5 separate regions of the Homo sapiens genome follow, and all the other regions are linked to region 5. The links come from fine-mapping of genetic effects on gene expression. A gene starts in region 5. Each other region holds a variant in brackets. All regions are shown on one strand. Distances are between the middles of the regions. Region 1 has its middle 22 kb from the start of METTL24. Region 2 overlaps CDC40 (cell division cycle 40). Region 3 has its middle 90 kb from the start of GPR6. Region 4 overlaps METTL24 (methyltransferase like 24). Region 5 holds the start of WASF1 (WASP family member 1).

Region 1 (5,107 bases), 200 kb before region 5:
CTTCCCTTTCAGTTGTTTGGAATAGTTTCAGGATGAATGGTATCAGCTCCTCTTTGTATTTCTAGTAAAATTCAGCTGTGAATCCATCTGATCCTGGGCTTTTTTGGGTTGGTAGGCTATTAATTACTGCCTCAATTTCAGAGCTTGTTATTGGTCTATTCAGGGATTTGACTTCTTCCTGGTTTAGTCTTGGTAGGGTGTATGCGTGCAGAAATTTATCTATTTCGTCTAGATTTTCTAGTTCATTTGCATAGAGGTGTTTATAGTATTCTCTGATTGTATTTCTGTGGGGTTAGTGGTGATATCCCCTTTATCATTTTTTATTGTGTCTATTTGATTCTTCTCTCTCTCTTCTTTATTAGTCTAGCTAGTGGCCTATTTTGTTAATTTTTTTTTTTGGTTGTGAATTTCTTTTATTTATTTATTTATTATTATACTTTAAGTTTTAGGGTACGTGTGCACAATGTGCAGGTTTGTTACATATGTATACATGTGCCATGTTGGTGTGCTGCACCCATTAACTCGTTATTTAGCATTAGGTATATCTCCTAATGCTATCCCTCCCCCCTCCCCCCACCCCACAACAGTCCCCGGAGTTTTTTCAAAAAACCAGCTCCTGGATTTGTTGACTTTTTTTTTTAGGGTTTTTTCATGTCGCTATCTCCTTCAGTTAATCTCTGATCTTAGTTATTTCTTGCCTTCTGCTAGGTTTTCATTTAGTTTGCTCTTGCCTCTCTAGCTCTCTTAATTGTGATGTTAGTGTATTGATTTCAGACCTTTCTAGCTTTCTGATGTGGGCATTTAGTGCTATAAATTTCCCTCTTAACACTGCTTTAGCTGTGTCCCAGAGATTCTGGTACGTTGTCTCTTTGTTCTGATTGGTTTCAGAGAACTTCTTGATTTTTTCCTTAATTTCATTATTCACCCAGGAGTCATTCAGGAGCAGGTTGTTCAATTTCCATGAAATTGTGTGGTTTTGAGTGAGTTTCTGAATCCTGAGTTCTAATTTGATTGCACCATGGTCTGAGAGACTGTTTGTTATTATTTCTGTTCTTTTGCATTTGCTGAGGAGTGTTTTACTTCCAATTATGTGGTCAATTTTAGAATAAGTGCCATGTGGCACTGAGAAGAATGTATATTCTGTTGATTTGTGGTAGAGAGTTCTGTAGACGTCTACTAGGTCCACTTGACCCAGAGCTGAGTTCAAGTCCTAAATATCCTTGTTAATTTTCTGTCTGGTTGATCTGTCTAATATTGACAGTAGGGTGTTAAAGTCTCCCACTATTATTGTGTGGGAGTCTAAGTCTCTTTGTAGGTTTCTAAGAACTTGTTTTATGAAACTGGGTGCTCCTGTAACGGGTGCATATATATTCGGAATAGTTAGCTCTTCTTGTTGAATTGTTCTCTTTACCATTTTGTAGTGCCCTTCTTCGTCTCTTTTGATCTTTGTTGGCTTAAAGTCTGTTTTGTTAGAAGCTAGGATTGCAACCCCTGCTTTTTTTTTTGCTTTCCATTTGCTTGGTAAATTTTCCTCTATCCCCTTATTTTGAGCATGTGTGTGTCTTTGCATGTAAGATAGGTGTCCTGAATATAGCACACTGATGGGTCTTGACTCCTTATTCAATTTGCCAGTCTGTGTCTTTTAATTGGGGCATTTAGCCCATTTACATTTAAGGTTAGTATTGTTATGTGTGAATTTGATCCTGTCATCATGATGCTATTTGGTTATTTTGCACACTAGTTGATGCAGTTTCTTTGTAGTGTCTTTGGTCTTTATATTTTGGTGTGGTTTTTGCAGTGGCTGGTAATGGTTTTTCCTTTCCATATTTAGTGCTTCTTTCAGGAGCTCTTGCAGGGCAGGCCTGGTGGTAACAAAATCCCTCAGCATTTGCTTGTCTGTAAAGAATTTTATTTCTCCTTCGCTTATGAAGCTTAGTTTGGCTGGATATGAAATTCTGAGATGAAAATTATTTTCCTTAAGAATGTTGAATATTGGCCCCCAATCTCTTCTGGCTCATAGAGTTTCTACTGAGAGGTCTGCTGTTAGTCTGATGGGCTTCCCTTTGTATGTGACCTGGCCTTTCTCTCTGGCTGCCCTTAACAGTTTTTCCTTCATTTTGACCCCGGAGAATCTCATGATTATGTTTCTCAGGATTGATCTTCTCATAGAGCATCTTAATGGTGTTCTCTGTATTTCCTGAATTTGCATGTTGGCCTCTCTTGTTAGGTTGGGGAAGTTCTCCTGGATAATATCCTGAAGTGTGTTTTCCAGCTTGTTTCCATTCTCCCTATCTCTTTCTGGTACTCCAATCAAGTGTAAGTTCAGTCTTTTTAC[T/G]AAGTCCCATATTTCTTGGAGGCTTTGTTCATTCCTTTTCATTCTTTTTTCTCTATCCTTGTCTACATGTCTTATTTCAGTAAGGTGGTCTTCAAACTTTGATATCTTTTCTTCTACTTGGTCAATTCAGCTGTTGATACTTGTGTATGCTAAACGAAGTTCTCGTGCTGCGGTTTTCAGCTCCATCAGGTCATTTATGTTCCTCTCTAAACTGGTTATTCTAGTTAGCAATTCCTCTAATCTTTTATCAAGGTTCTTAGCTTCTTTGCGTTGGGTTAGAACATGCTCCTTTAGCTCAGCGTAGTTTTTTATTACTCATCTTCTGAAGCCTGCTTCTGTCAATTCATCCATCTGATCCTCCATCTAGTTCTGCGCCCCTGATGGAGAGACATTGCAATCATTTGGAGGAGAAGGGGCACTCTGGCCTTTTGGGTTTTCAGCATTTTCTCACTGATTCTTTCTCATTATTCTGAGTTTGTCTAGTTTCAGTCTTTGAGGCTACTGACCCTTGGATGGGGTTTTTGTGGGGGCCTTTTGTTGTTGTTGTTGTTGTGGCTTTCTGCTGGCTTGTTTTTTTTTCAATAGTCAGGCCCCTCTTCTGTAGGGCTGCTGCAGGTTGCTGGGGGTTCACTTCAGGCCCTATTCATCTGATTCGCTCCCATGCCTGGAGACGTCACTCAAGGAGGCTGGAGAGTAGCAAAGATGGGTGCCTGCTCCTTCTTCTGGGACCTCTGACCTTGAGGGGCACCAACCTGATGCCAGTAGTATCACTCCTGTATAGGGTATCTGACAACCCCTGTTAGAGGGTCTCACCCAGTTGGGCAGCACAGGGAGCAGGACCCATTTAATGAAGCACTTTGTCCCTTGGTGGAGAAGGTGGGCTTCACTTCAGGGAAACCCACTCATCTGGGCTTCCCAGATTCCTCAGAACTACCAGGACTCCGGAAAGGCTAAGTCTGCTGGTCTGCAGAGACTGGGGCCACTTCTCCCTCTAGGGGCTCAGGCCCAGGGACATCCAAATTCTGTCCCTAAGCCTCTGGCTGGCATTATTGGAGATCCTGCAGGGTAGCCCCGCCCAATTAGGAAAGATGGGTTAGACCTGAAGAGGCACTCTGGCCGCAGACTGCCACAGGTGGTGTGTTGGGCTGTGGGGATAATTCTTGGGACCAAACCACTCAGCCTCCCTGGCTCCAGCAGGGGAAAAGTGCAGCCTGGAGGTATAGAGATGGGTGCCGCTATTCCCCTGCCCAGGAGCTTAGCGTGTTAGGCAGTTGTGAGTCCCAGTGCTGGCTGCTGCCCCGCCCCCAAAGAGCTCAAAGGGCTTAGACAGCAGGCAGCCGCAGCCCCTGCTGGTCACTCCTCCCTCAGGGAGTTTGGTAGGCTTAAGCAGATTCCAGCTGAGAGGCCTCAAAAATCTGCATGTTCCACGGTTAGGATGCTAGGCCCGGTAGCGTGGGTTCATCAGTGAGAACTTCCGATCCGTGAGTTGCACAGTTCTGTGGAAAAAGCACAGTTTCCCCTGCTGGGTAGAGTGCTCACTCACTGCTTCCCTCGGCTGGAGGAGGGAGGCGGTGAGTGAGGGGGCCCAAGGGTTCCCCTTCCCTGTGTGGCTCTCAGGTGGGCTGCCCCACCACACTGCTCTTCTTTCTCTCTGTGGGTCACGCCAGCCTTCTAGTCAATTTTGATGACAGAACCTGGATACCTTGGTTGCTGGTGAAGAATTCATACACTTATTATGGCTTATTTTGGATGGGAGCCTCTCAGCACTGCTGCTTCTAGTTAGCCATCTTGGCCCCCAAGATAATAGATTTTAAAAAGTCAGACCTGTGTCAACAAATTGCTTTGGCCAGAAAGCCTTCTGTTGAGGCTGTTGGCTTGTCTCCGCCTGGCCCTTCCCACACTGCCCCAGCGCACTGCTGTCTACCTGGCCCACCAATAGCCCTTCAGTATGTCGGATCTTCCCCAGGGCTTGCCTTTTCCTGGCACTCACTCAAATACGAGTTAACTTCCCTGAACAAAATCCTCTGGACCAGGGGTCTTCAATCCTGACTGTGCATTAGAATCACCTGGGCAGCTAAAACCAACCCAAAACCAACCAACTGAACAAACTAAAAAACATACCTGGGCCCACTGCCAGACCAAGAGAGTTAGAATCTTTATGATACAGACGGCAAGTATTAGTATTTTTAAAAAATCTGCTCCCACCCCCACCTTGGTGATTTTAATGTGCATCCAGGATCGAGAACCACAGATTTAGATTTCCAGTCCTGGTTATATATTAGAATCACCTGGGGGGTTAAACATATACAGGTGCTTAAGCTCTATTCCAGACCTCTCAGATCAAAATCTCACAGGGTGGGAACCAGGAATGTCTATGTTTGACAGCTTCTCTGGGAGCTTCCTGATGAACAGCTAGGGCTGAGAACCAGGCCTTAGGCCATGCCAAGAGCATACTCGTGGGCCTGGGCATGGGCATGCTAGAACCTCAGCCACCTGAGCCTCTGAGGAGGACAGAAAACCTGGACTAGGCCAAAAGATGGATGGCGTTGCAGCCCTCCAGTCCAGGTCCCAAAGACCCCTGACCTGGATGCCCACCTCAGTCCCTTGGCCAGTGATGTCCAAGCCTGGCAGTGCAAGGGATGCCCATCATCAACCATGCCCAGGACACTGAATCAGTCATGGCACCGTATTAGTCTGTTTTCACGCTGCTGATAAAGACATAACTCGAGACTGGGCAATTTACAAAAGAAAGAGGCTTAATGAACTCACAGC
Region 2 (5,107 bases), 33 kb before region 5:
CGCTGTCTCACACCATTTTTGTTTTGCATCCGCTGCTCTTGCTTCCTAGTTCTCTTTCTTTGTCTAACTGGGGACACTGACTCCTCCTTCCAGATTCAGCTGAAATCTATGAAGAGTTTACTTCCTATCGGTGTAGTAAAGTTATTGTCAATGATGTTATCTTACTTTAAAAATTCTTCCCAGATTTATGTTGGAGAGAAAAGAAGCATTACCAATAAATGTTCTCAGACAGCGCCGTTCTCCATAAACCTCCCATAGCTGGGGGAGAAAAAAAACAACACATGGAAATATTACATTTAATAAAGGTCCTTCAATTAATAACAACAGCCCTATGCTGGTTATGTGTGTGCACATCTGTGTGTGTAAACGCACAGCTTCAATCATTAAATATTAAACACTGAATATCATTAAATATAGCTTGGTGCTGCCAGTTTGTGTTATATTATTTGGAACACACACACACAGAGTCACACACGCTCAAAACTAAAGAGTTTTAAAGATATTTACATCAAAAAAGAGACTTAACTATAGATGGAGTTAATTCAGGTAAGTTTTCATTTTCATATTGTTCTTTTCTATTTCATACATTTTCTAGGATGAAAAGTTTCTACTTTTGTAGCACTACAAATGACGTTTAAAGGAATTGTTATTAAAACTGCCATGTATATAACATTTTGATACTGAAAGCCTTTTCTGTTTACTTTTCTGAATAACAAGTATTACAGAAGCTGTAAGAAAATGATGATCTAGACTAAAATAAAAGGCTCATAATTCTCAGCATATCTAAGGTGGATTAATACAATAGCTTCAAGGCTAGCTTTATTCTTGACTGCCTTGAATCCAATTCTCAACAATGTTGCTAGTACTCTAAAATAGAAAGCATTTCCTTGCCACTGGTGCCAATAGGACACAGTCTCAGTTACTGTAGCATACTAGGAAACGACCTCTGAGACCTGGTTTCTTGCTCATGACTGCAATCATTCCTTGTCTCTTAGATGTTATGCTCCAGCAAGCACAAAACTGTTATTTTCAGCACACACCATGCTGATCCATTCTCTTTTCAAGCATACTCTACTCCTGTTTCCTCATCCTTTACTTAGTTAACCAACTTACTAAGGTATGCTTCCTCTTTGAAACCAGCATATCTTGTGCTTGCCTCTATAATAATCATTTATATCATAATAAAATGATCATCCTAAGGGGAGGGACAGTGCCTTTATAAGCTTTTACTTTCAGTCCCCTGCACATAATAGAATGTTTATAGAAGTGAACTAATTGAATTCTATGCTTTTTTGGTTGGTCAAAGAAAAGACCAACATCTCAATTAACATGGTTTGTACAAAGTAAAAGTAAAAGTTAAGTAAAATGGGGGTTTTTACTCCAAAATGTTGGCCTGTCATTTTAAGCTATTAGAGACAAATGCCTAAATGGTTGCTCTTATAAAAAAAAGTGGCCTTTTTTATTGTTAATATCCATGAATTATTTACAAATGATAAAATTTTAATGACTCAACTTTTCAAGCCCCAAGAGCACTATAGGGTTGGTATTTATTGAACCATCATCATGGTCCGGACAAAGAGAAGACACAAAACTGGTAAGAACTATCCTTTCAGATTCAAAATTTTTTTCAAGACATCCTGCATATTCAGGTTGAGATGCATTGGCAACGGAGTTTTTTCTACCACACATTCTATGACTGAACAGAAGCTAAAGATGGAGCTTCCCAAGACTAGAAAAGGTGAAAAGAAGGGGCTGGGAGCAGTCCAGTTACTTGGTGTCTACTAGTATTTAGAAGAAAAAGGATGAATTACATTTTCTACTTTCTAAAAATGGGATTTCTAACCTATGTCCTCTCTATTTCATAAGGTTTGGAGAAACAAATAAACTATTACATATACAAAATCTCTATAATGATTAGTGATTAAATATTTATATGTCCAAAGCCAAAATGATTGGATTACATTCTCATCAGTTGTCTAAGCTTAAAAAGGGGCCTAGCCACCATGGGTGCCTGTAGTCCTAGCTACTGGGGAGGCCGAGGCAGGAGAATGGCATGAACCCGGGAGGCGAAGCTTGCAGTGAGCTGAGGTCGTGCCACTGCACTCCAGCCTGGGCAACACAGCAAGACTCCATCTCAAAAAAAAAAAACAAAAAAACAAAAAACAAAAACAACAACAAAAAAAGGGGCCTAGCCAATTGGACCACAGAGCCATAGTTGATTTTATGTTTGGAAGTAGTTCATAAATTGCTGCATTTACAGGATCTAAGAGAAAATAATTAGCTTCTAATTGCCTAACAAACCCAAATTTATTTATAATTAATCAAACAGATTTAAACAAAGAACTAGCTTTGCAGCACTCCTACTCTGTTACTGAAAACTCACCTTAATTTTACAGTCCATGGAACAAGACAGCAATAAATGGCCAGAGAGAGGAAACAATCTGACTGCACTGACGCCCTATAAAAAGGTATTACAGTTATCAACCAGAAGCATTCAAAAGATCAGCTCAAATGAAGCATCAAGAAAAGACAGTATATATTAAGCAGCCTAATTTGCTATTTTTCTTCATTCCAAAAATCTCACCCCAGAATAACTTTCATTAGCATTCCAAGAGCAGGCCTTATTGACACTAAGCTTTTGAAGATTTTTTTTTTAACCTTTAATATTGAGTTCCTCACCCAATGGAATCCTGAGTCAATCAAATTGCTAATACCCCCACTTCTCTTCCTTTTTTTACTTAGTCCTTTGCTCTTTGCAAAGAGTTGGAAATTA[T/C]AAGTTGGAATAGTACAGATGACAAAGAATATCAACATCAAAATTTTTCATGACCCTTATCTCTGCATTAGTTTAAAAATTACCATAGTTTATAAACCAGGGCGCATCTAATCTCTGAAGTGTGATAACCACAGAGCTAAAGCAAAATTACTGAAGCTAAGCAGGAGACTTGGTGCTAGTACCAGCCCATTACTCACTGATTTGGTGCCCAAAAGGAAGAAGACTGTAGCAGGAGCTTGTGGGGAAAGGCCTGGCTACAAGGATACAGGACACTAAATCATGAATGCTATGTCATGGCCAATTCAGATGGCCTTGAAGACTGATTAGTCACTTGTGATGGATGTGTGGGCATCTCCAAAGCATAACTCAGGCTTACATTCAATTTGACTTCCCTGTACCTTTACCAGAAATACTAAATGTTCCACATCAACAGCTAAAACTTTACGTTGGCTTCATTATTATAACATTACAGCAAACAGAAACAACCAACTTGCTTACCTTTGTGTGTCCAGACCACACATGAATTTGTTTTTTGGGAAGATAACACTTCTCAGGTGGCATAGTTGACCGTAGATTAACACCAACATCCTGAGGTATGTGAAGATAGGACCTGCCTTGATAGTCATACATTTCTTTAACTGAAACAAAAAGGCAAAGAAAATCAATAAACAAATACAACCCATAGTCATGAAACCTAACATTCTTAAAATAACATTTTATTCACAGGTATATCATTCCATATTAAGGTTTAGGTAATAACACTCCAATGATGTCAAGATCATGAGTCAGCTAAGATTTAAGTGCTTAAAATAACTGCTATCATTTACAACTAGAGGTAGTATTTCGAAATTCCTAAATATCCAGAGATTATAGACCTTTAGATAATATCTATACTTCTTTTCATCACTTACACATCTTAGTGATCTATAAAGACTTCACTGTGGCATAATTATAGCAAGGGAAGATAATACTTGGGCCTTGTTAGTCACTGGTAAAGAAGCAGAAATAAAACAGGTTAAGAAGGAAGTTAAAACAAAACAAAATATATCAACTATCCTTTTCCCCTGCTTTCCTCTCTTATGCCCTTCCAGTTCCTTTTCATTTATCTTTTCCCACTTTCATCACAAATTTTACAATAAAGTCACCTGTGAGAATTAAATGACATAGTATATATACAGCAATTAGCAGCATGCCTGGCACAGAGTAAGTACTCAATAAATGTTATTTTTATATTATTGTTATTATAGTTTTAAGTACCATAGTACTAAATAGACTCCTTGGAGATAAAACTGAAGCTTGAAGAACCAAATATGGCTTCATCAAACCTAAATATCTGATGTAATATAACATTAGAATAAGCAACACTGTAAATGCTAAGCTATTCTTTACAGTTTTAGATAATCACTATGTATTTTCCTAAATATAACTAATTATTAACAGGTACATTCTAGAATACTTACGATTTGTTTTGGTGAATATGCATTTCCTTCTACAAGTCAAAATAAGTATGAGAGCCTTAAGCTCCATCTTTTCACACGAAAATCCAAGTTTATTCTGAATATAGCTGAATAACGATTATGAACTGTGAGGATACCTGAGTATTTGGCTTCATTAAAAACATTTAAAATGACTGGGGCACTATTAATACACCAAAAGAGTCAACTTTATCTTACGAAAGAATAGATTGTGGACTATTCAAGTTTCTTTTTATCTACCATTTAATAAAATTCATTCACACTTGGAAAAAAATTATCTGTGGCTATCATTAATCATGCTATTTTTTCTCCTTTATCAGTATACAGAAGTCTGCTGTAATTTCCTTGGGATACAAATTGTCCAACACAATTATACTTAACATAATGATTTTATTACAGCTGATAGTAAGGGTAATTGATATTGTATGAACAGCGAACAGAGTAAATATGAAGGTTTTTCATAAAAATGAAGATGTACAAAAAATATGTTACCATGTAAGATTGTCTTCTCCTCCCCAGGTTTCTCTTCTTCCTGTTTTCCTTTTTTCTGCCTCTTTGCTGTGATTTCATCCAATTCTTTTTGCTCTTCCTAAGAAAATTAAGGAGTGAAATTTAAAATGAATGTTCTAGAACCTCATTATACCTAAAGTTGGTTATAAATTCTTTATAATGACTTCTACATATCTGGTCCGAGTATGTTCCCAGGATAACAAGCTCAACACTTTTTTTTTTTTTTTTTTTTTCTGAGATGAGTCTCGCACTGTCGCCCAGGCTGGAGTGCAGTGGCGCGAATCTCTGCTCACTGCAACCTCCCTCTTCCTAGTTCAAGCAATTCTCCTGCCTCAGCCTCCCGAGTAGC
Region 3 (5,107 bases), 110 kb after region 5:
ATTTTATTTATTTATTTTTAGCAACTAGAAAGAGAAGTCCTCTGAGAAAAGCACCTGTATTAGGATGCCTTTGTGAATGAGCTTAGGACAGGTTCCTCCTAACTCACACAGTTTGGAAGGCACAGTTTATATTTGCTCTTGGGGAGGAGGATATAGGGAGAAGACTCTTCCAGGTCTAAAATCCTACTTCTAATTCTATTCAGACTCCTCTATTAGCTACATTTCTGAAATCTCTTTTATAGAAAAGGAATGGAATAGCCATGTTTAACCCCAAATGTTAATTCTCTGGCAGTATGATTTATTTTATCACCTGATTTGTTAAAGAAACCAGACCATTTAGCAACGAAATCAAAAGAAGTTTAAAAACTGCTGCACCATTATATGTCACAGCCAATGTGTTACACAAAAATACAGTTGTTTTCTTTATGTGTGTGTTTATTCATTCATTAACAGATATTTGCTGATCACCCACCATGTGCCAGGCACCATTCATGTGTCCTAGGGGGAAGCAGTGAACAACAACAAAAAGTCCCTGTTTTTATAAACCTCACATTCTACTGAGGGAGACAAATTACCTATGATAATATAGGCAGTGACTAGTGTGGCAAAGAAAAATAAAACAGGATAAAGGAATAGAATGGAATGTAGGAGTGGGGGTTGTTAAATAAAATAGGCAGAGTGGTTCTCTCTAAGGAGAAAACAGAAACTGGGATAAAGGGAATGAGTGATTCCAGGTATTCCAAGCAGAGATAACAGCAAGTGTGAGGCTCTGCAGTCATGTTTGAAGCAGCAGAGAAGGCCCGTACATCAGGAGCAGAGTGAGCCAAGAGGAGAGGGTAGGGAATTGAAGAGGAAGCACACCTGCTCATGCTCAGTGGCTGCGGCAAGAACTCTGGTTTTTATTCCTCCTGTGACACAAAAACAAGGGAAGTTTTTGAACAAGGTAGTGATGGGATCTGATTTGTATTTTTAAAAGAACCTGGCTGTGATATGGAGAATAGACTATAGAAAAGGGCAAGGGCAAAGGCAGGGAACTCAGGAGGCCACAGGAGCAATCCAGTGTTGGCTAGGGGCAGACAGGGGCTGAGGAGCAGAGTTGGAGGGCTCCGATTTGGGAAGTACTTTCATGGTGGAACCACCTGTCTACTAAGAGAAGACAGTTTGGGGCATGCTGTGTTTGTGACGCCTGTTAGACATCCATGCGGACATAATGAGAGGGAGGTCAGCTATAGCAGTCTTGAGTCCAAGAGCTGCAGATTTTTTTGGTTTTTTTTTTTTGAGACAGAGTTTCCCTCTTGTTGCCCAATATGGAGTACAGTGGTGCAATCTCAGTTCACTACAACCTCTGCTTCCTGGGTTCAATTGATTCTCCTGCCTCAGCCCCTGAAATATCTGGGATTTCAAGTGTGTGCCACCATACCCGGCTAATTTTGTATTTTTTCAGTAGAGACAGGGTTTCACCATGTTGGTCGGCTGGTCTCGAACTCCTGACCTCAAGTGATCCACCCACTTCGGCCTCTCAAAGTGCTGGGATTACAGGCATGAGCCACCGCACCCGTCCAGAGCTACAGATATTAATAGGAGTCATCAGTATGCAGAGGTAGTGAGAACCATGACATTAAAAGAGTCCATGCAGGAAATGGAAGAGGAAGACTTCAAAGACTTAGGTCATCTAGAGTTGGGCAATAGAAGGAAGATCCTACAAACAGAAGGGAGCAAAAGCCTTGGTGGGGTCGGAGGAAAACAAGAGAGTGAGTTCTCCTGAAGTCGCACGGAGGGAATGTTTGACGAGGAGGCAGTAATCAGCTGCACTGAGTGCTGCAGCAAGATGCATGAGCTGAGCCTCAGGCCGTGTCCAATACAGTACACCAATTCAGTGTGAGAGATGCCTACCTTCTGCCAACTTCAGAGACTGGATTGCCGAAGGTCACTGAGGTTCACCTGGCATAGCAACGTTC[C/G]TCTAATTGTATTTGCTCCAGGATTTTTAATATAAAGCATTCGATGAGAAGAACTGAGATTCTTCTATGGGATCAACTATGCAGTTTACTAAGTTAAACTTAAAAAAAAAATTGCTGCCAACTACAAAATCTAACTATATATGGTGGGTAACTAGTGTTAACTCCGGTCCTCCTTTCTGTGGACTTGGTGAAGCCTTTTCTAGGAGCCTGAAGGAAATACCCGTACCCTGTCTGGGTCCTATTAATAACTCATCCTGGTTCCTGATTGTGTGCTGATCTTTTCCTGTGCTCCATGCCAGTTTATATTAGAATGGTCACAACTGGGCTGATGTAGTCATTACACATAATTGTCATTCTGTTTCAAGAGTTCAAAAATCCTCTATGTTCAGCCTTCTTCAGTTGTACTACTCGTTCTTGTTCATAATTTGCTCCCCCATAGACCCATGTAGTGCAGAAACTTAAGAAGGTTTACTTTCCTTCATGTGCCCTTTGTGTGGCTGGCCTGCTGCCTCTCTTGAATAGCTTCTGTCTCCCTGTGGTGTGTCAGTGGGAGTGCTGACAAGGCTTACCTGATTTTTGGCAGGGAAAGAACAACTTCTAAAGCAAGTTGCTATAGTTACCAAGTCTTCCCACTGCATAGCAGTCGCTGACTCTATGCTACTTTTTAATGTTGCTCTATCAGATATTCTCCTTGGGTACCGCAGCTTGGGGTTTTGTTATTTAATCATTTCATGCCCACTTATGCGTGGGTTACATAGAGAGTGAGGAGAACAGGGTCCTATTATGGGGAGCATACACATACACCCACACATGCATACATGCATATTTCAGGTTTGACATGCCTGAAACCACAGCTGTTTTTCCACTCAGATTTCTTGCACCAAATCCATTTTAGAAGGTTTTCTACAAGGATAACAGATTGTATGTGGAATCATTTTGTACATTCCAAAGAATGTTTGTTTCTATGTTTCCAGACACAAATTATGTGTGTGGAAAGTTTCCCCAATTCTTTTCTCAGTAATTATCTATTTTCTATCTCTAGGAGAAAAAAATAAAATAGAAGTTGATTATAGATGAAATCATTCATTTGTGAGCATTTTTGAAAGTTAATGTTTCAAATCAGACCCATTGTTGTGCTTTTTCTATTGTTTGTGCATGACTGTAATTACTAGAAATTGTGACATTTGGAGGCTAATTGAACTGCTGTCTTGTCTGACAGGCACAAGTGTTCTGGGTAGAAATTCAGACACTAATATAGTGGGTGATGAACATTATGTGAACATCATAGAGCCTTTCTCCCCACTGAATTGAGCTGCTCTCGAGGAAACACACACACATCACTAACCAGAATTGTAGTTAGTTCAGCATCACAATGTAGGCATGGTGGCAGAGCTTGGCATGGTCCTGGGTCTCACTTCCCATCACTTCCTCAGCCCCATCCTCTCTTGGCCTGCCGGAGCTGCCTCACCTGGCCAGGCTCCAGAATGGCTGGGAGTGAACAGCCCCTGGCCCACTCTTAGAGCTGACTTTCTGGGTGGAGATTCGGCTTTGCTTTTCCCTCCGGTCTGTGTGACTTCGTGGCTCTGTGGGCTGCTGCTGGCAGCACTAGGTCTTTGGCACCTACACCTCAGGCTCTTGGGCAGATTGATTTGGGGATCACTGCCTCTGTATAAGGATGTTGGTCCTAACTAATGACTGACACCAAAGAAAGGAGGCCTTTGGCCTGTCACCGCCTCTGAGGTATGCAAGGATGGGGTCAGCTTGGGGACTGCATAGACTAAAACAAGACACAGTGATTTGGATAACAAATGTTGGACAAAATGGTAGCCATGTCTCTCCCACAGAGCTGGACTTCCAGGCCTGGTGGGTGGGCTTCTTTCAGCTGTTTCTTACCATGAAGTTAACAAACAGGTGTGTTGAACTCCAGACAAGTTTCTCCAAAGACAAACTTGAGTAAGAGCAGCCACCAGTCGGCGGAGAAGTAGGTGACTGCCCTGGCTAGGACCCTGGCAGTCCTGAAGACCCTGAGATTCCACTCAGCCTGCATCACCCCTGTACCCAGTCCTTCCACACCTGGAAGGCTGACCCTCCTTTCCCCCATGGACCTGCACTCTCCAGGCAGAATGGGCCCCTCTATCACTTCTCCCACCTAGGCTGCCTGCCATGTTTTCACCCACTCATGAGGCTGTTTGCAGCTAGTTCCAGGCCCCAGGGACAGCTCAGTGTGATCACAGGTTTCAAAGCTCTCTGGAAGAAGACAGAGGAGAGAATAAATTGGTCTCCCCAAACTCTCACTTCTTTCTCCTTGACCCAGGAAGACCATCAAGCTCTGTTGCTCCTCCCTCCCTGGCTGGCACCTGGAAACTCTCAGACAGCTGGCTGTGTCAATTGCAGGAGACACACCTCATTTATTTCTCTTCTCTCAGGGATCACTGTCCTGTGCTGCCTGAAAACCATGGTTGAATGTCTGAGAATCATCGTTGGATATACCTTGTCTGTTTTAGTAGCTGTTTAAAGAAGGCAGGCAAATCTGGTCCCTGTTAGTCTATCATGGGCATAAGCAAAGTCCTCTTCTTCATTAAACACTTCTTTCCCATTAACTTCAGAGACCTGACGTTCTCCTGCCTTGTCTCTAATTCTCTACAAGCTCCTCTTAGCCTCTTTGGCAGGCTCATTAACTACTGGAGTTCCTCCCATCCACCATCCCGTTCTTGTCTCCTCCCATTCTGTAATTGCTGCCTGTGTGAACTCACCATGCCGAGGGCTTTGGTAGCCACCTCTACCATAAATGAGGTTTCTAGTCCAGAGCTCCTGTCACTAGGACTTCAACTAGGATTTCTTGCACCAGGTCCATTTTAGAAGGCTTTCTACCATAACAGATTGTATGTGGAATCATTTTGTACATTCTAAAGAAATGTTTGTTTCTATGTTTCTAGACACAAATTATGTGTGTGGAAAGTTTCCCCAGTTTTTTTTCTCAGTAATTATCTATTTTGTATCTCTAGCAGAAAAAAATAAAATAGAATTTGATTATAGATGAAATGATTCCCAGACATCCAACTGCCTCTGACTCCACAACCTGTATGTTTCTATGCATCTCAAACTCAACATGTCTGAACGTGTTCGTTGTCTTTCCTCAAATTTGATCC
Region 4 (5,107 bases), 75 kb before region 5:
CAGAGAAATTAATTTTAATTTGATTTAATTTTAATGAATTAATTAAAATTAAAATGGCCATATGTGGTAAGCTTCTACTGTACAGGAGAGCAGCTCAGTGGCTTTCCTAAACATTCCAGTTTAGGAACAGTTCACTTCCTTGTACACACCCACAACAAAATAAAAAACTGAATGCCATTTGGAGAATTAAATATTGATATTATCCATTTCCTTATTTCAGTGTTGATCTCATTTAACTAGAAAACATATTTGAGATGGGAGCCTTGTAGTTTAATGCTAATGAAATATTCCATAAGATAAAACCAATTTGTATCTATTTCCAAGTCCTGTCAGAATTTATGTTAAGTCATCTTCTCTCAGATTATTGCCCCTGCTTTAGATCATGGTGATAAGAGTTTTAGAAAAATCCAACAATGCAAATTTCTTGATGCAGTGCAGCCTGTACTTGAAGGGCAGTTGTGGTGCCCTGTATGCTGTCAGAGGGGGAGATGACCAGCAGAAATTCCTGGTGTTCCACAAGAAGGAAGTGACATGAATAGAGAAACGGGCACACAAAAAGGAAGTGACATGAATAGAGAAATGGGCAGAAAGGTTTTAGTGGCATTTTGAGGAATGACAAAGAATTACATTTGGCTAAGTGTCGTGTGCATAAAGAGTTGAAAATCAAGACCCGAACACAACATTTGTGCCCTGTGGGAGAATGGAATTGATAACTGCTGTTATTCCTAACTCCCAACCCTTGACCTCTCTTGTCTCCTCTCTTTCCATCAGTGAGGTCTGAAGCAAGGTGATCACAGAGGTGGAGGATGGAAGGCCAGGGGGAGGGTGTTATGGAGGCAGAATAGGTGGGACTCGTTATCTGATAGGATATCATACCTGCTGTGAGCCAGGACCTCTGATAGGAACTTGATACCCAACAAGGAGTTAGATTCCTGCCCTAAAGGAACTTACAGCCCAGGTAAGGAAATCAAAAGATCAACACAAGAGTGACCATGCTACCTACTTTGCTAGAACTCTGCATGGGGTTCAGAAATGGAGGACATCAAGTTGACTCTGACAGGTCTAGCATGAGTCGTGCTGGGGTTAACTGCAGCACTGGGACTCATATCTTATATGACCAGGGAGGGAAAGTTGAGACTTGGAGATTGTTTAATTAGAGGTGATACTAAAGTCTGAGGTGAAGCTAGGCTCAGTGGTAAAAATAATTTCCTGTATATATTTTTCAAAGCTGCATTCCTCAGTCATGTGTGTGTGTTGTGTGTGTGTGTATGCACATGTGTGTGCACACACATCCCGAGACTTCTTAATGTTTTCTCACCCCCTCTCATTTCTGGCTTCTAACACTTGACCCCACTCACTGCTGATTCTTTCATTATTTTTATTCCTAGTTTCTTCTCACTTATATTTTAGTATATGCTTAAAACACAAGCAAAAACTAAATACCAAATGCGTTTGTTTTGTGTCCCTCTAAATTAGTGCTTGCTTTTTGCATTGGGGCTGTTTTTTTTTCTTTCTTTTCTTGCCTAAGTCACATTACTGGCTCCAGCATGCTCTGAGGTTGACCCAGTCCCACCATCTAAGGGCAAAGATTCTCCCACTGAACCCCAAGAACATGTCTTCCTGAAGATTTTATTTGGATGTTTACTTGGGTTATTTGTTTATACATCTATTCATTTAGGAATCATTTATAGATGTCTGAGTTTTATGTCCCATCTCCTTCCAAAAATACTTTGGAACACTTGCAAATAAATTAACCAGGTAATGTAACTTTAAGGCATTGAGTTCTGATCTTAAGATCAGAGATTTGTTTTCAGCTGCCCAGGGAAGTAGGGTAGAAATGAAGACAGAAAAGCAGCTGCCGGGAGCTGTCCGTGGTTCTGCCATTGCCCTTCTGCCTGACTCTGCCCTCGGTCAGGTCCCTTGCTACCGCCTCAGTCCTGCCTACGTTTGTGCTGCTTGGTTCCTGCTTAGTTCTTTGCTGTTGCATAGGAATCACCCTGCTGACCTCTGACATCTTGGCTGGTCACCAGCTCACCCATCATCTGTCCCTGA[C/A]TTGGGTTTCTAGGCTGTGTATTCTATCACCTCACCCAGCTCAGGAGATTCTTGCTCAGCAGTCTCAGGTTGGATTATTTCATCAAGCTCCATATCTGGCCAGAAAAAAAGAGCCTTTGCTTGTAAATGTTTTCCTCATTTCCTTTTTAATTCATTTGTAGAGTGTTGTTCCCTGCAGGAGTCATTTTTGTGAGCTAATTACTACATAAAATTATTTTATTTTATTATTAGTTCAGAATTGGTCCTACATTAGCTTAGAGTGACCCTTCATATTTCTCATAATCTGTAGGGCAAACCTCATCTCTTTCTTCCCTAGTGATAGCAGAAGTCTTGTACCGTTACATTTCTGCCAGTTGACAGTGATAATTGAAACTGATTTAGGGTGTTTAAAGTCTAAGGCTCTCAAAAAGACTTTTACTATTCTTGTTCACATTCACAATAGATTAATTTATTCTATTTTTCTACAACAACAAGACCCTCTTTCTAATGCATTTAGCTTCTAGTTTTGCAGGTACACTTTAAGTAAACTTGATATATAAAAACCTAGATATATTTTATCATTAAATAACAACTTTTCACCAGTAGACTAAAAAGCAAGAAGTTGTATTGATGTAATTATTTTAAAATTGTGATTGAATATTGACCCAAACTGTAATGAATATGGAGAATGAATGTTGATTTGTTGGGGTGGTAGGGAATTGATGATAATTCAAATTTTTATTTATTTATTTTTATGTATTTATTTTATTTCTTTTGAGATAGTCTTGCTCCGCTACCCAGGCTGGAGTGCAGTGGCATGATCTCGGCTCACTGCAGCCTCTGCCTTCTGGGTTCAAGTGATTTTCCTGTCTCAGCCTCCCAAGTAGCTGGGATTGCAGGTGCATGCCACCATGCCCAGATAATTTTTGTATTTTTAGTAGAGACAGCATTTTGCCATGTTGCCCAGGCTGGTCTCGAACTCCTGGCCTCAAATGATCCACCTGCCTCAGCCTCCCAAAGTGCTGGGATTATAGGCGTGAACCACGCCTGGTTGATAATTCAATTTTAAAAAATATTCATAAATAACTAGATGATGTGGCCAAATAAATAACAATTCTTAAAATATGAACTCATTTACAACACTTCTTTTCAGAATTCTGTTTTACAAAATGACAGAACACACACACAAACTTAGTTGCCCAGTTTGTTGATAACATCAGTTTGTAACATCATCCATTTGGGAAAATATCTATATGGCCACCAGAAGGAGGACTGATTAAATAAATTAAATCATTACAAAAGCTGTTAAGAATAAATTATTGATAGAGGCTTTCATATTTTTTTTAAGCAGGAGAGCTCTTTTCCCAAATGCAAATTTGTGAGGGATTCCAAATATGTCAAGGAGATCAAAGGGGAGCTGCTCTTGAGTTGAGGTCTGGACCTTCACCCACTTGCCATCCTCCTCACCCCTCCTGGGGACCTGCAGTCACCTCCTTCAGATTCTGAAAGCTCTGAGGGACTCTGTTTGAGAGAAAATTTTAGAGGAAAATTTATTGACATGGAAATATATTCATAGTCTGTTATGTTAAAAAGCAGATTTGAAAACATAGGATAATTTCAATTTTGTAGAAAATGTGTGTTTCAGTTATGCTCGTGTGTTAGAATTTGTCTTGTGTGTTTGTGTGTGCATGTGTACGTGTGTGTTTACAGCAAAGAAAAATGTTTGGGAGTTCAGAAGTAAACTGTTTTAAAATTCTGGATTATAGGTATTTTACTTCTTTTTTTGTTTATCTATGATTTTAATTTTTAAATAATGACCATGTATTGCTTTTATAAGAAAATATTTTTTGGTTAAATGCATATTAATTTCTAGAACTCACAGCTTTAGAATATATAGTACTTGACACAATACAAGTAACTTTTACCTTTTTAAAAAAAGATTTTCATGAATAGCACTTAGTCTCTGTTCTAGTTATCTATTGCTGCATAATGAATTAGCCCCCAAGCTTAGCTTTTTAACCCAACAATTGATCCTTTGATGCTCTCTCGTAGTTTATGTGGGGCAGAGTTTTGGGAAGGGCTTTGCTGGGTGCTTCTGGCTCAGGGTCTCTCATGCAGTTGAAGCCAGTTGAAGGCTTGCAGCAGCTGGGGTTGGCCAGACATCTCTCTCTCTCTATTCCTATTGACTCAGGACCTCTTTATTGGTCTCTCTGCAAAGGCTAGTTTGGATTTTCTCATAGCAGTACCGCCTCGGGGCAGTCAGACACCTTTCCTGAGGGCCAAAGTTTTCAGGAATGAATATACTCTTGAGCAAAGTAGAAGCTGCATCACCCTTTACGGCCTACGCTTGAACGCCACTTAGAATCACTTCTACCAGACTGTGTTAGTCAATCAGTCATTCACAGCTCATCACAATTCTGGAGGATGGGCTACATAATTTGTGGGGCCTAGTGCAAAATAAAAATGAGGGGTCTCTTGTTCAAAACTAGTGAAGAATTTTAAGACAGTGACAGCAGAGTGTTAAATCAAGCATGAAGCCTTTCTAGGCTTGGGGCCCTGTGTGACCACATAGGTTGATCCCATGTCTCAGTGGTGGGGGTGTCAAGGCCACATGCAGAAAATCATGTTAGATGGGAGATAATGGTGTTACATCTTTGGAAAATAATACCTACTACAGTCTCTGTGACTCACCTCCAATTAATTTGATGGCTCACACTTTTACTAGCTAAAACCAGAGTTAGCCATTAACTATAGAGGAGACACTACAGGCTGCCATAATAGTAAAAGGATGTATTGTAAAAATGCTTATGGAGATAGTGGTTGCCTCTAAATAGAGCATAGCAAAAATACCTGTTTTAGATTTGTTATGGGTTGAAGAAATTCATAGATTGAAGCCCTAACTCCCAGTGTGACTGTATTTAGAGATAGGGCCTTTAAGGAGGTGATTAAGGTTAAATGAGGTCATAAGGGTGGGACCCTAATCCAACAAGACTAGTGTCCTTGTAAGAAAAAGTGGAGACACCAGGAATGCATGCAGAAAGGCCACAGGGACAAGGCAGCCATCTGCAAGCCAAGT
Region 5 (5,107 bases):
ACAGAGCATTTAAGTAACTTATCCAAGGTCCCCAGGTGGGTAAGTGCTGGAGGCAGGATTTGAATTACAGTCTTAATTCCAGAGCCTGTGCTAACCATTTCACGGTGTTCACCTTGAGCTAGAAGCAGCACAGCCTGAGGTTGAAGGTATGGGAGAATATGTGGAATGCAAAGAGGACTAAGAGCAGAGTCCTGGGAAACACCAGTATTGAAAAGGGAGAGTAAAATAATTGGAACAGAATGCTGAGTAGAGCCCCATGGAAGCGAAACGGAGAGAAAGTTTCAAGAAAGAGGAACTAATGAACAGTGTCATTTGATGCAGACATTTAAGTCAGATGGCTGAACTTGACAACTGGAAGGCCTGGGACATCACTCACAGACAGTAGTTTCCCAAGAGGATAGGGCCAGACTGCATTGGGTTGAGGAGAAAATGAGACGAAGACAAAAAGAGAGCTCCAAAAAGCTGAGCTGTGAAAGGAGAAGACTCAGGAGGTTACTGGAGGGGCTTAAGTTTGGAAAGTTTTGTTTTGATAGGAAGTTAGGAGGATTCTAAGCATTCTTTCATGACAGATGTCCATTTTTAAAAAGTAAAATTCACATACAGCTTGTTAAAAACCTGTAAAACACTTCTTAAGTCATTAAACTAGACTTGGGGACATGATACAAAGGAATTTTTGGACACCGCCTCCCCTCTTCACATCTTGAGCTGATCACCTACCTCGGGCTCTACTGGGCCTACACTACCAATTGGTAGATGCTCTCATCAGGCTCCAGACACATCAGCTTTTCCTCAGTTCTTCAAACCCACTAGGCTCTTTGCGTTCTCAGGCTTGCCTGTCACCTCTGCCTGGAAACTCTTGCCTTATTAATCAGCTTCCTCCATTGAGATCATGCAGCTGTTTCTCAAATCCAAGGCCTTTTTCTCACTGTATTAACACACACAATCATAAAACATTTACTGCACTCTCACTAGTTGGCTCTGTGCTATATGCTTTATTTGTGTAATTTCACTCAATTTTCACACTCATCTTTTCATGTAGACAGATGTTTTGAAAATGATCTCCACTGTACAGGTGAGGAAAGAAAGGAGGCTGCATAACTTGTCCAAGTTCACACAAGTGGTGGTGCCAGGATTAGAACCTAGTTCTTCAAAAATAAGACAAATCGAGGCCACTGCTCACACAATACTCTAGTTTGGGAAGTCCTGATCTAATTTCACTTATGTTCCGAGATTACACCTGCACTTTCCAGGCTATGTCCCTAATCCACAAATTCAAATTTCATCCCCTCCTTCCACTTGCTTTCTGATGGCGGGAGGCAAGGGCAGAGAGCATCGGAGGGCTATTCCGAACTTCCAATTCTGCCTCTCCCGAGGATGCATGTGGGAAGGAGAAGAAATTCAAACGTTAGCAACTTATCTCTGAGCACTGAGAAAGAGGTAACCCGGTACCTAACAAGCGGCTGGCAGTTCTGGAGCTGAAGCCAACAATTCCCACACTGCATTAGTAGCAAAAGTGCTTACCTTAACTGCCACCTCCGGAGCCGAGTCCACTGCCACTGCTAGAGACGGCTTTGATGAAGGCGATTTAGTCAAGTGCATGAGGGAGTCGGCGGCTGGCAGCGGACACCGACTGCTCTCACTGTCCGAGTCCGATTCGGACCCTGAACCCGAACCATAGGAAGCGGCCAGAGCTGCAATCGCAGCCGACATGACGGCAACAAATCTTCTGCGGAGACCCTGCCAGGGCGGAAGAAGAAGAGGCTCCCAGGTCCTGACAGATTGCAATGGAACACATCATTAACTTTCTTTGCTAAGAAATAATGTCTTACATTTTGAAACAATAAGCTAATTATTATTAGAATAACTACTGTCGAGCTGAGAGCTTAAAAAAGTTTATCTAGGGAAAAAGGGAGAATTATAATAGTTTATAACATTTAGGACCTAGTTGACTAAAGAATATGAGTTCCAAAATACCTTGAGGCCTCGCGGTCCTGCACTCCCAGCGTGCAGCGCGGCAGGAAGCGCGAGAGGGCACAATGGGAAGTGTAGTTTGCAACGAGGGGGCGGAACGGGGGCGTGTCCCCCTTTGACCCCGCCCCCGAATGGATGTTCCATTCAATTGGCTATCATCTTCCCTCATTCCCTAGCCAAGCAGTGTTCTCTTCGTCCCCCTCCCCCAAACTGAGGATTGGGCAATACCACAGAACCTCAGGAAAGGGGGGAAGAGCGAGCTTCGGCCCCACTAATGGGGGAGTGGGCGGAGGCTGGATTTCCCACCTCGGCTGCACCTGGGCACTGGAGGCTGAAGAGGAAAGTGAGAATCTGAAGTTTTGAGACCTCTGACTGGCCAGGAATAGCTCCTGGGGCGGGGGGCAAGGATGGGACCATAGGCGGAAAGAGTCTCGCGGTCCCCCCTGCTTCTGGCGCGGGTCCCTGCGCCCGGTTGTGGAGCGTCTCGCGCGGGGAGGGGGCGGGGGGAACGGCAGCTCGCGGTGTTGTTCACTCGCGCGTCGAGCACACGGTGGGTCCGGCGGCGGGTTGGCGCCCCAGGCGGCGTTCCCTGTGGCCTGGCGCCTGGGCCGCTGCCCTGAGCGGGTTCCGCCCCAGAGCCCGACCCTCCTGGGGGCTCTAGGCGGAGTCCCGCGAGCCGAGGGGGACCGGCGACCGCTGCCGAAGCATGAAGAAGGGGTAAGGCGTGAGCCCCCAAGATTTCACGGTGAGCGCGAGTCCCTGAGGAATTGCTTTTTTCGGGGAGGGGGTGTTGGGAGAGGAACTCTTCCTTACTGGCCGGAGCAGACCGAGTGGTGTGTGGCCCGCAAAGGTGACGGGGATGGATGGGCGCGCCTTCCCCGCCCCGGCCCCCACCCCCATCCGCGGGTTTTCCGAGCGCCCACCGCCCACCCGCCAGCGGGGCTGGGTGCCGAGGGAGACGGCGGCGGGCGCGCCTGGGGCTTGGCTGCAGGGACCGCCCCGGGGCTGCTCTCGCTGGAGAGACTGTGGGTGTCACCTGAGGTGCCACCGCCCGGGCTTCCCTGCCCACCCGCGCCCGCGGTCCGCCCCGTGCCTCTTTCCGGGGGAGGCGGTAGCCCCGGGCGACAGAGAATCCCCTGCTCGCCCTACGTGCGCGAGGCTCGGTAAAGCGAGCTCGTGCGTTTGCGTGTTTGCTCCGCGAGTCGGTGTCTGAAAACATAACGGTAAAGCGAGTGCGGGCATCCTTTTCTTCGTTGGAAGGGGAGGCGAAGCGGTGCTGTCGCTTCTGGTGCCTGTTCATGGGGGCTGCCTTGGGCAGAGTTACGGAGCCGCTCACTCAGCGCTCATGTCGGCAGGACTCGCCCATTGTGCCACCCAGATAATTATTCAACTATGCAGCATCCATTGCACCTTTCCCATTTTTCTTTTCCCCTTGCTACAGCATGCCCCCTAGCTTCGGTACTCTGACACCTTCTCTTGCACTTGCGGATGATGAACTGGAATAACGATGAAAGAAAGCACATCCGATCTCAACATTCACGTCCTGCCCTATAACCGATTAATTAATTGATCCCCAGCTAGACTAGGTACTTAAATACGACTTACTCTAATCATTTCCTTTTCTATGTAATAAGATGTGCGGTGGATTCGACTTAAATTTTTTCTTTGGTGTTAGATTCACGATTAGCTAAGGTCTTTTTTCTGTTCACTAATTGATGTAATTGACTTATTGGTTATTCAATCCGTCTAATGTTCTTAAATTTAAATTTGCATGGTAGGTAACATTCATTTTTCTGATTGTTCATAGCATTATATCATAATTAGAAATGCAGTCTCAATTTGAACTCTCAGGAACAGTTTATCCTTTATGCTCTAAGTTTCTGTTAGGAAACATTTTTGTTTATATTGAATATTTGAATGAAGTATTTGATATAAAATTTCGGAAGTTTTGAATAAGAAAAGTTTTGTATTTGTTTTTCGGTAGCAGAATATGTCATTACTAATCGTTGCCTTCCATTGAATGGAAGGATTTAATATTTAAGATGAGGATTTTAACCATCATATCAGTCATTCCCTAATTTATCTGATTTTATTTTTTATTCACTTTTTTCTTTGCAATATCATGTATTTAATTACTTGTTTTAGAATCCAGTTTTTTTTTTTCTAACTTGAATCTACAAGTATGAGTAGGCTTCAGTTTTGCGTGATCTACCTGAAGGATGAAATTTTTTTTTTTTTGCAAATATAAGAAACCACTGTTGGTTACTTGATTTTTATGTTAAAAACTGTTTACATCTCATTATTTAAAAATAAATGATTCACTATAAAAAGTAAGTGTTGTATTTTTATAATTTTCCTTTTCCATCTTTCCTTGTTTAAGCTTGTTGCATTTACCCTTTTGATAAAAGAGAATCACATAAGCATTGCAGAGGCAGTTTTAAGGTATAGTAATTGTTTTATGGCACTTGGAAGTGGCGTACATATAATATAAGTTGATGGTGTAGGATTAGTTGCTTGGTTAGGAAATGACCTTGCAATTTACAAAATGGACACCTTTGTGCCTTGGTTTCCTTATATGTAAATGGAGATAATATTTAGTAGGTAGTGTGCATAAATTCAGGAAAGGTGTGTTTTTGTAGTCCTTTTAAAGAAAATTTAAATCTTTTAGCTGATGAATGATTAAAAAATTTCTGTGAAAAATACAATGAAAAAATGTCAGGATTTTCCATGGCATATTAGAATGGCTGATTAACATTGATTTTTGCTTTGGAGAGGTATGCCTCTGAACTGAAAAATGTTTCTCATCTATCAAGGGTTTTAAATAATTGCAGACATAAAGGTTATTACAGTTAATACCTACATATAGTTAAACATATAGATAAAATAGTTAATAGTAAACAAAAATTATGACTTGATAATAAGTAGAATATTGAATTAAGTTAGTGAAGAATAATATATTCGAAAAATATTAAGGCCCTTTTTGTTACAAATTTGCAGGTGTTACAATCCAAAATACATAGTTGTGATCATTTATAAGGTATGCTATAGAGTTACTTTATTACTCATGTTTGTAAATATTCATATATTCAGAGACAGTTTTAATATTGTATAAGACTATATTTAATTATACATTTTG

The links. PIP is the estimated chance that this variant, and not a neighbour inherited with it, causes the effect.
Region 1: its variant is the best candidate, but not a certain one, in a credible set for the expression of WASF1 in whole blood (INTERVAL, PIP 0.84).
Region 2: its variant is the best candidate, but not a certain one, in a credible set for the expression of WASF1 in whole blood (INTERVAL, PIP 0.78).
Region 3: its variant is the best candidate, but not a certain one, in a credible set for the expression of WASF1 in skeletal muscle (GTEx, PIP 0.70).
Region 4: its variant is the best candidate, but not a certain one, in a credible set for the expression of WASF1 in whole blood (TOPMed, PIP 0.73).

Annotation. Positions count from the first base shown.
Region 1 is chr6:110,377,308-110,382,414 of GRCh38, reverse strand. No RefSeq gene overlaps it. Among named protein-coding and RNA genes, the nearest start is that of METTL24, 22 kb to the right of the region's middle. The variant T/G (reference allele first, on the strand shown) is at 2,336.
Region 2 is chr6:110,210,437-110,215,543 of GRCh38, reverse strand. It overlaps CDC40 (cell division cycle 40), which reads right to left. Exons shown (of 15, transcript NM_015891.3): 6 at 4,741-4,837; 7 at 3,272-3,411; 8 at 2,384-2,458; 9 at 213-258. Among named protein-coding and RNA genes, the nearest start is that of CDC40, 33 kb to the right of the region's middle. The variant T/C (reference allele first, on the strand shown) is at 2,774.
Region 3 is chr6:110,065,518-110,070,624 of GRCh38, reverse strand. No RefSeq gene overlaps it. Among named protein-coding and RNA genes, the nearest start is that of GPR6, 90 kb to the right of the region's middle. The variant C/G (reference allele first, on the strand shown) is at 1,959.
Region 4 is chr6:110,252,330-110,257,436 of GRCh38, reverse strand. The region is part of intron 4 of METTL24 (methyltransferase like 24); the gene reads left to right. Among named protein-coding and RNA genes, the nearest start is that of CDC40, 74 kb to the right of the region's middle. RefSeq lists a silencer at 1,804-2,004. The variant C/A (reference allele first, on the strand shown) is at 2,053.
Region 5 is chr6:110,177,048-110,182,154 of GRCh38, reverse strand. WASF1 (WASP family member 1) reads left to right here and starts at 2,485. Exons shown (of 11, transcript NM_003931.3): 1 at 2,485-2,716; 2 at 3,413-3,557. It overlaps CDC40 (cell division cycle 40), which reads right to left and starts at 1,728. Exons shown (of 15, transcript NM_015891.3): 1 at 1,522-1,728. The coding sequence starts at 1,710. RefSeq lists silencers at 2,456-2,565, 2,806-3,125.